Linked DNA regions of Homo sapiens. The protein of the gene in region 1 interacts with the protein of each later gene in a pairwise test. Each region holds a gene or a part of one and is shown on either strand. Other genes may lie near its edges.

Region 1 (5,640 bases):
TGCCTGGCTAATTTTTTCTATTTTTTAGTAGAGAAGGGGTTTCACCGTGTTAGCCAGGATGGTCTCGATCTCCTGACCTCGTGATCCGCCCACCTCGGCCTCCCAAAGTGCTGGGATTACAGGCATGAGCCACTGTGCCCGGCCAATCCTGCTCCCTTTCGAAGCAAAACTCCTCCAAAGAGTGGTCTGCTCTGGAGTTAACAAGTCCTCTCCTCTGGCCTCTCTTAAGGATGGAGACTGAGTTAGCAAGTCCTCTCCTCTGGCCCCTCTTAAGGATGGAGACTACCCCAGACAGGCTCCCACCAGGGCCCTGAAGCTGTTCTTGTCAAGGTCACAGTGACCCATGTTGCTAAACCCAGTGGCCATTTCTCAGTCTTCATTTTACTTGACCTCTCAGTGGCACTGGCCACAGCTCTCCCTCCTCCTGGAAACACCTTCCCCTGCAGATGCCCAGGTCCTCAGCCCTGCCTGGCTGTCCTCTCACTCTCTGGCCACTCCTCAGTCTTCTCTGCTGATTTCCTCCCCATCTCCCTGACCTGTTAGCCCTAGGATTCAGTTCTCAGCCCTCTTCCCTGTCTACAGCTTACCCTTGATCTCATCCAATCCCATGTCATCAAATACCATCTATATACAGATGGCTTCTAAATTTACATCTTCAGACATCAGTCCCAAACTTGCATATTTAACTACATACTTGACATTTTGACTTGTGTTTCTAACAGTCATCTCAAATGGATCAAGTCCAAAGTTGGACCCCCGTCCCTCCTTCAGTCTTCCCCACTTCAATTAAGAGCAACTTTAGCTTTTCCATTTCCTCGGGAGTCATTTTTGACTCCGGTCTTCCTCTCGTGCTCTACAGCCAATCTATCAGCAGATCCCATTGGTTGTGCTTTCAAAATATACCTAGAATTTAAACCCAGGTTGTCTCACAATGGAGCCACTGGTTTCTAACCACTCCCCCTCCCCCGACTTATGCTGAAATTGCCTTCTCCACACCCACCAGCACCACAGAACTGCAGAGCTGGCTGGCTCGCCAGGCCTGTTCCTAAACTTTGACATTGTGAACTGACGCATGTTCCTTCCTGTCATCTTCCCCACAGAACCCCTCTATCCCAGGAGTGCTTTACTCTGGGTCCCTGGGCTTCCCTAGGGGGTTGCTAAGTCCTCTGAAGTAATGTGGGAGAAGAATCCTGGGTGGATGTGCATTTTTCTGGGGAGAAGGCTGACAGCTTTCATCAGATCTTCAGGAGGATCTGCGAGTCCCTCCAAAAAGACTGAGAGCCACCTGACTCCTTCGTTCCTCCTTGATCAGTACTTAACACTTTACATAGACATTCATGCATGTTCTCCAGATGTCCTTTATTTATATTCGTATTCATAAGTTCTCATACTACTTCTGGTCTTTTTAGTAGCTCTTTTAGGGCTGTAGCCACAGAACGGTCATTCTAGTGATTCTGAGCAGGGTGGAGAGGAGTGCAGCATCCCTGGGCGGGTGGGTCAGTGAAGACACGCCCAGCTCACCTGATATTCTGTGACTGGTTGCAGAACACAAGTCCCTCTCGAAATTGTTTAGGTTTGTGGGGAGATATCTGTAAGACAGAGTGAGAAAGCCTTATGGAAAAGGCCAAGAAGTGCTCAGCAGGCCTAGCAGAACGCTCAGGAATCCCACCCACACCATCCCTCATTTCTGGGTCTTTCTTCCTGGACATCTCAGGCCTCAGACCTGCATCCAGGAGCTGGAGCACCGCAGTGCTTCTGAACGCCTCTTCCAGTGGCACCTGCGGGCCTAGTGTCCCCACACCCGCTTGGGTGACAGAGGCCAATCAGTTGTCAAGCTTATGACTTCCAATCAGAGTGGTGGGGCCCTGAAATGACTTGCTCTTTGGGTCACTGTATGTAAAGCAATTTGCAGCTAGCGGCACTGGGCGGGTGACCCTGCCTGAGCCCAGTGAGGAGCAGGTCGTCTGCCTGCGGTGCTTCCAGGACCTGTTTGGAGACGACCACAATAAGAACGGGTTCAAAATGTTCGACTCCTCCAACTATCATGGCCAAGACCTGCTTTTCAAGGATGCCACCGTCCGGGCGGTGCCTGTCGGAGAGAAAACCACCTACCGCGGCTGGCTGGGGCTGGACTACGTGGCGGCGCTGGAAGGGATGTCGTCTCAGCAGTGCTCGGGCGCAGGTAGGACAGGCCCGCCCTGCCGCCTCCCCTGGTGCTATTCAGACCCCTTCACCCCAGAACCCTGAGGGAGCGGGGGGCGCTGCGGGTCCGGGGAGGCGGGTGGAGGCCCGTTCGCAGCAGTCCAGGTGGGGTGTCCCGGGAGGATTTTGGCCAGGAGGCTGCGGGCCGGGAGGGCGGGAGCCCGGCGGGTCTCCCAGACGGACCTGGGTAATGAGTGTGAACGCTCAAAACGGCGGCGCGGGGAGGATCTGGGGCCACGGCAGAGACATGCGTGTGCTGCCTTTCTGGAAAGAGCGCATCTGGAAGGGCAGCAGGGGAAAGGAGCACAAAGAGGGAGGCTGCGGCGAGTTCGGTCCCGAAAGATGCCCCCACCCCCACCCCAGAGCGGGCGCCTGAGGCGGCCACCGCGGCCCGGGCTTCGGGGCCTGACCCGCCGCGTTCGTCCCCAGCGGCCCCGGCGCCCGGGGCGCCCCTGCTCCCGCTGCTGCTGCCCGCCCTCGCCGCCCGCCTGCTCCCGCCCGCCCTCTGAGCCCGGCCGCCCCGCCCCAGAGCTCCGATGCCCGCCCGGGGAGTTTCCGCGGCGGCTTCGCGCTGGAATCCAGAAGGAAGCTCGCGAAGGCCGGGCCCGGCGTGGGCGGGAGCAGGCGCCTCCCCGGGAGCCCCGCCGCCCACGGGCGCCACCTGGCGCTGCTACCTGAGGCGCCGCCCCCGGGCCCGCGCGGCCCTTCCCGCCAACCGCCGCCTCCCGCCACCTGGAGCCGCGCGGGCCGCGCCGGAGGAGGCCGGTTGCCCAGGAAACCGCTGAGTCCGGGCTTCCCGCCGCCCGCCCCGCGGTGTCGCCCGAGGGGCCCGCCCGCCTCCTCCCCGCAGCCCCGCGCCCCCGTCCGCGAGGCCCCCTGGGGACGCGGTGGCCGCCGAGGCGCCTACACCCGCAGGCCGCGGCCAGGCCGTCCCAGGAGGCCCCGGCGCCAACGGGACCCGGCGCGTGGGACAGCGGCCTCTGCTGGCGGCGGCGGGAGGGAGGCCGGACCGGGGCGACGGGGAGAAGCCTTCGCCCGCGGGACCGTGTCCGGGGTGGGGGCTCCAGTTCCTCCGACCGCCCGTGCGCTGGGAGGGAGGCCGAGCCCGGGGAACGCCGCGTGCCCTGCCTCGTCCCCCACTGTGGCCGCGCCAGCTCCATCCCGGGCCAGCCGCGTCCACGGGCCCCCTCCCGAGTCTCCTCAGGCTCTCGCCTCCCCTACCCCCGTGGGATGCCCACCGCCCGCACCCACGCCCGAGCCTGGCGGCAGCAGCCGCCCCCCGCCTGAAGGGAGCCGGAGGTGACCCAGGCCGCGGGCTCCCGAGGCCCCTGAAGGGCTGCGCGTGGGGACCCGCCATGCTTCTGGGTTCCGAACGGGGGTGAGCTCCGTCTCCTCACCCGGCCCCGCACCCGCTGGGCCTGGGGACCCCTCACTCCCCGTGCCCGCCCCTCCGCGAGGCAGCAGAAAGCGCCCGGCCGGGGCCTCTCTCTACTCCATCTTGCCACAGTTGTCTGAGAAGCCAGAAAAAGTTTCCAGAACTGGCAGCCCTTAAAAAAAATGAAGAGGAAGAGAAGAAATGGGAGCAGGCAGCCCTCGTCAGCAGACCGGGAGCCGCGTGGGCGCGGAGCCATTTGCATTCCGGTCTGCGGGGGCTCGGGGATGCTGGTGACAGGCCCGGTTCCCGGTGGCTCGCCCCCACCTGCGGGCGTCGGGAAGGATCCCTTCCATCTCTCAGCCGCAGAGGAGGCCCTGGCAGCGCCCCGGCTGTAGCCATGCAACCCCGAGGAGTCCCGGGCACCTTCACCCCACCGGGAGGGGCCACAAGGACCTGGGCCTCGGCCACCAAGCTTTGTCCCCTCTCGCTGTGGGGGGCTAGTGATTCTCCTCCGACCTGACGATTGCTTGGTTTTTTCAAAAGGGAGTTTTGTGCGGTGAGAAGTGTGTTTCTGTGTGGCTAACTCTGGGCTAGCGTGCCGTGGCCATTGAAGGTGTGGCCTGCGTGGGTGCAGTGTAAGTGACGCTGGATTGTCAGGTGGCAGCAGGGGACCCCTGCTGTGTCAGTGCTAATGAAACATGTTGGTTGGTTTCTAAAATAAAGCCAAACAAGCCAGCACATGCAGAGGCTTGGACCCTGATAGAAACTTCTGCTGCCGATTTCTTTCGTTTTGTTAGGCACTCAAAGGCCTACCTGCTCCACCGAGAAGGGCAGATTCCATTCTCCAAGAGCCAGTCAGGGACCACTCTCATCCTCTAGTCAGTGAGGCCCCCCGCGCCCTTCTTCGACCTGGACTGGTTCTCTGGCTCTTGCAGGGCCTCCGCTGCCCTGGCACATTCCAGCTGCCTCCACCCCATCAGGCTCTGGGGTGTCTGCCCTTCTGTGGATGGGTGCAGAGAAGGGTGCAAACTTCTCTGCTGCCCCCTGCCCCACACCTCCAAAATAAGCGGCCCACATCTTTTCTCTGGCAAGCTCGCTGCTAACTCACTGGAGGGGGGCGTGGGGAGCGGATCTCCCAGAGACCCTACAGTGGGTGCTCTGTGGTATCTACTGAGGTGGGGGTGGGCCCGGCTGGTCTTCATCAGTGCTCTGCTCTCCCTCTGGAAGGGGAGGTTTTCTCTGCTTCCCTCTCTCATGGCTTCACTTGGCCCCCACACCACCACCCCTCGCCGCTGTGGCCATCTCCCAGAGCCAGGTCTTGCCCACCACTGCACACAGGCCATTTTCCATGAAGTCGGCTCAGTTATCACAAAGCCAGTCAATTCCTGGGGACCTGGATGGCCAGAGTTGACCGACTTTGTCTCTGCATCACATGGACGAGTCTCAGCTGCACAGTCACTCCAGCTCGCCTCATGCTACCACTTCCCTACCCTGAACTTCTGGAAAGGAAAGTTAACCTTTGGGCACCCTAGCCCCTCATCTGAAAAACACACAGTACGATCACCAGCTTGGTGAGGTGGTTGTGAAGATCCAGTCTAAGATGCAAAACACTCAGCACAGTGCTTGGCACACGGCATAGAGACTAAGACACAAAACACTGCACAGTGCTTGGCACACGGCATAGAGTCTAAGACACAAAACACTCAGCACAGTGCTTGGCACACGGCATAGAGTCTAAGACACAAAACACTCAGCACAGTGCTTGGCACACGGCATAGAGTCTAAGACACAAAACACTCAGCACAGTGCTTGGCACACGGCATAGAGTCTAAGACACAAAACACTCAGCACAGTGCTTGGCACATGGCATAGAGTCTAAGACACAAAACACTCAGCACAGTGCTTGGCACACGGTGGGTGCAGGAAGGATGTTCACTGTCACTACTGCTATTACTCCAGAGCCTGTTTTCTTGTCTTCAATTTGGAATTCCTGGGAGAGATCATCTGATTGGCCCAGTGTGCGTCAGGCATCTACCACTGGACCAGTCAGCACAGGCCAGAAG
Region 2 (8,062 bases), on another chromosome or scaffold:
CTACATGTAAACTGAACAACCTGCTCCTGAATGACTACTGGGTACATAACGAAATGAAGGCAGAAATAACGATGTTCTTTGAAACCAATGAGAACAAAGACACAACGTACCAGAATCTCTGGGACACATTTAAAGTAGTGTGTAGAGGGAAATTTATAGCACTAAATGCCCACAAGAGAAAGCAGGAAAGATCTAAAATCGACACCCTAACATCACAATTAAAAGAACTAGAAAAGCAAGAGCAAACACATTCAAAAGCTAGCAGAAGGCAAGAAATAACTAAAATCAGAGCAGAACTGAAGGAGATAGAGACACAAAAAACCCTTCAAAAAATCAATGAATCCAGGAGCTTATTTTTTGAAAAGATCAACAAAATTGATAGACTGCTGGCAACACTAATAAAGAAGAAAAGAGAGAAGAATCAAATAGATGCAATAAAAAATGATAAAGGGGATATAACCACAGATCCCACAGAAATACAAACTACCATCAGAGAATACTATAAACACCTCTACACAAATAAACTAGAAAATCTAGAAGAAATGGATACATTCCTCGACACATACACCCTCCCAAGGCTAAACCAGGAAGAAGTTGAATCTCTGAATAGTCCAATAACAGACTCTCAAATTGAGGCAATAATTTATAGCTTACCAACCAAAAAAAGTCCAGGACCAGATGGACTCACAGCTGAATTCTACCAGAGATACAAGGAGGAGCTGGTACCATTCCTTCTGAAACTATTCCAATCAATAGAAAAAGAGGGAATCCTCCCTAACTCATTTTATGAGGCCAGCATCATCCTGATACCAAAGCCTGGCAGAGACACAACAAAAAAAGAGAAGTTTAGACCAATATCCTTGATGAACATCGATTGGAAAATCCTCAATAAAATACTGGCAAACTGAATCCAGCAACACATCAAAAACCTTATCCACCATGATCAAGTGGGCTTCATTCCTGGGATGCAAGGCTGGTTCAACATATGCAAATCAATAAACGTAATCCAGCATATAAACACAACCGATGACAAAAAACCACATGATTATCTCAATAGATGCAGAAAAGGCCTTGGACACAATTCCACAGCCCTTCATGCTAAAAACTCTCAATAAATTAGGTATAGATGGGACGTATCTCAAAATAGTAAGAGCTATCTGTGACAAACCCACAGCCAATATCATACTGAATGGGCAAAAACTGGAAGCATTCCCTTTGAAAACTGGCACAAGACAGGGATGCCCTCTCACACCACTCCTATTCAACACAGTGTTGGAAGTTCTGGCCAGGGCAATCAGGCAAGAGAAGGAAATAAATGTTATTCAATTAGGAAAAGGGGAAGTCAAATTGTCCCCGTTTGCAGATGACATGATTGTATATTTAGAAAACCCCATCATCTCAGCCAAAAATCTCCTTAAGCTGATAAGCAACTTCAGCAAAGTCTCAGGATACAAAATCAATGTGCAAAAATCACAAGTATTCTTATACACCAATAACAGACAAACAGAGAGCCAAATCATGAGTGAACTCCCATTCACAATTGCTTCAAAGAGAATAAAATACCTAGGAATCCAACTTACAAGGGATGTGAAGGACCTCTTTAAGGAGAATTACAAAACACTGCTCAACAAAATAAAAGAGGATACAAACAAATGGAAGAACATTCCATGCTCATGGGTAGGAAGAATCAATGTTGTGAAAATGGCCATACTGCCCAAGGTAATTTATAGATTTAGTGCCGTTCCCATCAAGCTACCAGTGACTTTCTTCACAGAATTGGAAAAAAACTACTTTAAAGTTCATATGGAACCAAAAAAGAGCCTGCATTGCCAAGTCAATCCTAAGCAAAAAGAACAAGGCTGGAAGCATCACGCTACCCGACTTCAAACTATACTACAAGGCTACAGTAACCAAAACAGCATGGTACTGGTACCAAAACAGAGATATAGGCAGACCAGTGGAACAGAACAGAGCCCTCAGAAATAATACCACACATCTACAACCATCTGATCTTTGACAAACCTGACAAAAACAAGAAATGGGGAAAGGATTCCCTATTTAATAAATGGTGCTGGGAAAACTGGCTAGCCATATGGAGAAAGCTGAAACTGGATCCCTTCCTTACACCTTATACAAAAATTCATTCAAGATGGATTAAAGACTTCAATGTTAGACCTAAAACCATAAAAACCCTACAAGAAAACCTAGGCAATACAATTCAGGATATAGGCATGGGCAGGGACTTCATGTCTAAAACACCAAAAGCAATGGCAACAAAAGCCAGAATTGACAAATGGGATCTAATTAAACTAAAGAGCTTCTGCACAGCAAAAGAAACTACCATCAGAGTGAACAGGCAACCTACAGAATGGGAGAAAATTTTTGCAATCTACTCATCTGACAAAGGGCTAATATCCAGAATCTATAAAGAACTCAAACATATTTGCATGAAAAAAGCAAACAACCCCATTAACAAGTGGGCGAAAGATATGAACAGACACTTCTCAAAAGAAGACATTTATGCAGCCAAAAGACACATGAAAAAATGCTCGTCATCACTGGCCATCAGAGAAATGTAAATCAAAACCACAATGAGATACCATCTCACACCAGTTAGAATGGCGATCATTAAAAAGTCAGGAAACAACAGGTGCTGGAGAGGATGTGGAGAAATAGGAACACTTTTACACTGTTGGTGGGACTGTAAACTAGTTCAACCATTGTGGAAGTCAGTGTGGTGATTCCTCAGGGATCTAGAACTAGAAATACCATTTGACCCAGCCATCCCATTAGTGGGTATATACCCAAAGGATTATAAATCATGCTGCTATAAAGACACATGCACACGTATGTTTATTGCAGCACTATTCACAATAGCAAAGACTTGGAACCAAGTCAAATGTCCAACAATGATAGACTGGATTAAGAAAATGTGGCACATATACACCATGGAATACTATGCAGCCATAAAAAATGATGAGTTCATGTCCTTTGTAGGGTCATGGATGAAGCTGGAAACCATCATTCTCAGCAAACTATCTCAAGGACCAAAAACCAAACACTGCATGTTCTCACTCTTCTCTCTCATAGGTGGGAATTGAACCATGAGAACACATGGACACAGGAAGGGGAACATCACACACCGGGGCCTGTTGTGGGGTGGGGGGAGGCGGGAGGGATAGCATTAGGAGATATACCTAATGTAAATGACGAGTTAATGGGTGCAGCACACCAACATGGCACATGTATACATATGTAACAAACCTGAATGTTGTGCACATGTACCTTAGAACTTAAAGTATAATTAAAAAAATAAAAAAATAAATTGTGGCGCATCTACCTCAATGAATCCCTATGTAGCCAAAAAAAAAAAAAAAAAAAAAAAAAAGCAAGTACACCCTTTGGGTACTTGTAAAGAAAGATATGTAGGGGACATGGGATGAGGAAGCATATCTAGTGGGATATATATTTTATTTGCTTGTATTTTCATAAAGAAATAATGTAGAATACTAATTAAAGTGGTACCAGTAAGGTAGGTAGGTAAGGGAGCAAAATGTGGTGGATGGAAGCTAGTCTTCACTGGATATTGTTTTACACTCTTTGAATTTTCAACCATATGAGTATACTATCTGTTAAAAACAAACTTTTTAATATAGTAAATTAAACATATTGATGGGCCTCTCTCTATTCCACAGATTTGGCTGGAAACACAGAAATGGAACAATGTCATGTTGATGCTATTGTGGACACTCTGGATGATTTCATGTCATGTTTTCCTTGGGCAGAGAAAAAGCAAGATGTGAAAGTAATGTGATCCATTTGCTATTCCTAGTATTAATTATATACCACCTGCCAGACATTGTGTTAGGTGCCTTAGAAAGTTCCTTAATATCAAAAGAATATGTATAATTTTAAAATACCAAATTATATTTTAAAAGTTTAAAATAAAGTACAGCAATTCCCTATTGTACCCCTTCACATTAACTCCTCCCCAGATGCAACCCTTTTAAAACTTTGTTTAGCAGTTTCTTTAGGATTTACACATTTCCATATTTCTATAGGATAAATAAATATGACTTCCTCTGATTGACCAATTGTAAATGATTTCTCAGGACTTATGATAGTACAGGTTAAGCATTCCTAACCTGAAAGTCTGAAGTCCAAAATGCCCCAAACTCCAAAACGTTTTAAGTACCAAGATAACAGCACAAGTGGAAAATTCCACATGTAAGTACTTAACACAAACTTTAGCAAATGTGCAAAATTATTGAAAATACTGTATAAAATTACCTTTGGCTATGTGTATAAGGTGTAAATGAAACATAAATGAATTTGGTTTTTAGATTTAGGCCCCATCCCCTATATATCTCATTATGTATATGCAAACATTCCAAAATCTGAAAAAGTCTGGAATTCAACACAATTCTGTTCCCAAGCATGTTGGATAAGGGATCTCAACCTGAAATAACAATTTTTCTCTTACATAGTCATCCTTTCTGCTTCCTTTTCACCAAGCTCCCAATATTGTGATGTGAAAATTTTTTGGTTAATTATCCTGTGATTAGTAGGCTATGCAAATAATGCACAGAACTGTGCACTGTAGTATGCTTTTATATTTTCTTTCTCACTTTTCTTCCTTAAAATTAGTAATTGCTTTCTTTTGCTTCTTTTCACTTTTACTGCTGACTTTCCACAGTATCCAATAGCCTGCCAATACGATTTTCCACAAGGTCAACGTAGTGTCAGTTCATCTGTTATTTCCAATATTTCTTGGAGCGCTCTCTAGGAGACTTCCATTCTTTGTGGAGTTCTCCAGGTTTTCTGCACAGCTGTCATCATTGGAATTCCCTTTGCTGTTATTCCAGTGATGCCATTCTATGGAGCTGGAGTCCTGTTCCTGGATGCTGCCTTCTTTCTTTGTTTACTCCATTGTTTATTTGGGGGCACATCCTCTAGTATTCCAAAAGTTAAAATGAAGGCTTGATGACAGCAGATATGATTATGACAGATGGCATGGATATGTCTATCTTGTGAGTCACACTGCTTCGCTCTGGTATGGTTGTCCTAGATACTTGGTCACAGTTGTCATCCTGAGATCTTTATTATTACCCAGGATTTTTTTTTTTTTTTTATGTTTTCCTGGGTTCATTCTCCTGTTTTCTTTCCTTGCTTTTGTGGAACAGTCCTCTAAGAGCTTACTGGTCATAGGAAATAAAAGTTTGGGGCTTTTGGGGCCTTATTTGTTTAAAGATGTTTTTATTTTATTCTCAAACTTGTTTATAGTTTGACTGGGTGTAGAATTCTGATGAAAGTAGTTTTTCATTAGTATTTGAAAGGCTGTTGAGAAGTTTGAATTCAATGTAATTACTGACCTTTTGTATGTGACCTATTTTTTTTCCACTCTGAAAGATTACAAAACACGTGCCCTTAGAGTTCTAAAATTTTGCAATGGTGAGTCTTGGTATGATCTTGTTTTCATCCATTGTGCTGTTTCCTTGGTGATTCCGTTCAATCTGGGACCCATGTCCTTTAGTTCAAGGACATTTCCTTTAATTCTTTCATTAATGATTTCCTCCCCCTTTATTTTCTTTGTTCCATTATAGTAGAATTCCAGTAATTCAGATGTTGGTTGGCTCTTTTCCTATTTCCCGTCTCTTGGCTTTTCTGCATTACTTTTAGAAAGCATTTCTCATCAGTCCTTGAGTTCTAAATTTCTGATATTGTGCTTCTAAATTTATAAAAATTCTTAGGCTGTTTTCCGCTAAGAATGGGGAAGGGACAGCTGTCTAGTAATGTAAAATGAAGAACATCCCATGCTAAAACCGCTTAATAGTTTTCCACCAATCCTCATTTTATCCCCTCCCAAACCTCCTTAACCCCAGTTCTAGACATATCCGGTCATTTCCTGAGCCATTTAAGGATTTTGTGTTGTTGATAGGATTGGTTCTTGGCTTTCCCTTCACAGGTGCCATTCACCCATCTGCTTACTAGCTTCAAATTTTGTTTGCTCTTATCTCCTCTCTTTCCACTTCCTTGTGGGTTCTATCTTTTTAAAAATATTCATTACTGTGGTTTAGAGATGAATGCAAAATGATATATATTTGTCAAATTATTCATCTTTATGCAGAATTCTAAATAGACGTCTTTATTACAGCTTCTAGTGGTTTCCTTTAGGACGCTCATCACAGTCTCTATTTTAAAGAGACTGGCAGGTGGTGTGTGATTACTTGTTTGTTGTTTGTCTCCTCAAGCTGGATGCATCGTGGGGTAGGAATCATGTCTGTATTATTCAACTGATCCCCCACCGCCATCACAGTGCCTTTTACATAGTAGGCATTACACACTTGTTGAATAAGTGATCAGAACCACACTCATCAAATGCACACCATGTGCCTGTGTTACTCTCAGCTCTATGTGTTATCTCAGTCAGCCCTCCTCCCACTTCAAGATAAGTGCTTTTTATTGTCATGCTCACTTTCCAGATGAAGACACTGAGAAACAGAAGTTACAGAGTTGCCCAAAGTCACACAACTGACAGAACTGTGAACTGAGCCCAGACAGCTGAATTTAGATCCCATAGCCTCATCACCTAGGTATACAATTGCTTAAATTAGTAACTAATTTAAGCATTCCTTTAGAATGAAACTGCTGTTATCCTCATCTTCCAAGTAAGAAAACAAGAGTTTCATGTAGTGTAAACAACTTACCCAAAATTGTTCAGCTAGAAGTGGTGCAGAAGGAATTCAAATCGTCACTGACTCAAACCCCAGGTTCTTAACCACTGGGTATAATACCACAGTGCAAGCAGCTGTTCAAAACAGCTGCGCATGAATATTTATGTACATGTTAAAGCTAAAGCCTATAGTCGAAAGCCACAGCACAAATAGCAGGCAGTCTTATCAATTTACTTAAGCACATATTTAAGCACATACTATCTACTTAGTATTTATTGTAAATACTATTTAATTAGCACCTTCTGATTTGAATAGAGATATCCGGACACAAAAGTATTTACATTGACTAACTCCATGATATAAATGTAAGGTGTGTAGGGTCTGCCCACACACACACGTATATATATAGGCCTAGCCAGGAAATAATGAAGCTCAGCTTTGATGATAGAAATACAACTTTTTGACATAAGTACATTTAGGCTCTGGAGTCAAACTGCCAGGTTGAATCCTGATTCCCTTCTTACTAGCTGTCACTTAACTCCCTATTTATAGTTCAAACTCTTTGTAAAGTGGGAATACAACAGGCTCTACTTTGAAGTATGTTGGCAGGATTAAATGTTAGCATATGTGCCTATGGCTAGGTAGGAAGTGTTAAATATTAACTATTATAATTAATAGTGTTATATACTTTGGTGTTAATTGTTTTTACTATTTGTCAGACATGGCATCTGTATTTTACATATCATTATAAATGTAGAAACAGATGCTCTCCAATTTAGAAGTGTCTAAAGATTTTTGTTCCATGTACCAAACACCCCCCTAATGTGCAGTCTATCAATTTATCAGTTTGCTCTTCTCTACTTTTCTATTTTCTACCTTTCTGTGGCTGAGGCTCCATAACAGAGACCACCTCCCAGAGGAAAATATTCTTCGAACATTTATGATAAGAGTAACACTCTACCTTTGTATTAGAATAACAACTCTCTTACATACCACCAATTCCAAAAAAACAATTTCAAAGGACACAGCAATCCAAGTTCATGATTAAATCATACAAAGGCAGAACACGTTGCAGAAACATTGCTGATAGCTATAGACTATCTAATTAACAAGCAGGACTTGGCTAATATATAATGAAAAATGCACTGTTCTGTATTTCATTTCTTAGACTGTTGGTAGTGGGCTACATTGCTGCCATCTTGTGGTCAGGTGAAAATTTCAAAGGCAGAATATTGATGCACTTAAGATGGATAGTGAATATATTCTTGTCATATACACCTTAAAAATCTACCAAATACACACAATTTTACAGTATTTATTACTAAAAATTCCATTTCCAATAAAAAAAGAATTAAAAGCAAAAGATGCCTTTGGATATTGGTCACCAT

The links. The genes of interacting proteins can lie anywhere in the genome.
Region 2: the proteins of MELTF (region 1) and HPGDS interact in binary tests that used the Homo sapiens proteins (3 or more experiments, as listed by UniProt).

Annotation. Positions count from the first base shown.
Region 1 is NC_000003.12:197,000,443-197,006,082, reverse strand, and holds the end of MELTF (melanotransferrin isoform 1 preproprotein), read left to right. Parts: intron 1-1,338; exon of another isoform or gene 1,339-1,589; intron 1,590-1,723; exon of another isoform or gene 1,724-1,902; coding exon of another isoform or gene 1,903-1,983; coding exon 1,984-2,182; exon of another isoform or gene 2,183-2,481; intron 2,482-2,631; coding exon 2,632-2,711; 3' UTR 2,712-4,343; downstream 4,344-5,640. UniProt on the Homo sapiens protein: Involved in iron cellular uptake. Seems to be internalized and then recycled back to the cell membrane. Binds a single atom of iron per subunit. Could also bind zinc.
Region 2 is NC_000004.12:94,304,377-94,312,438, reverse strand, and holds part of HPGDS (hematopoietic prostaglandin D synthase), read left to right. Parts: intron 1-3,695; coding exon 3,696-3,805; intron 3,806-8,062. UniProt on the Homo sapiens protein: Bifunctional enzyme which catalyzes both the conversion of PGH2 to PGD2, a prostaglandin involved in smooth muscle contraction/relaxation and a potent inhibitor of platelet aggregation, and the conjugation of glutathione with a wide range of aryl halides and organic isothiocyanates.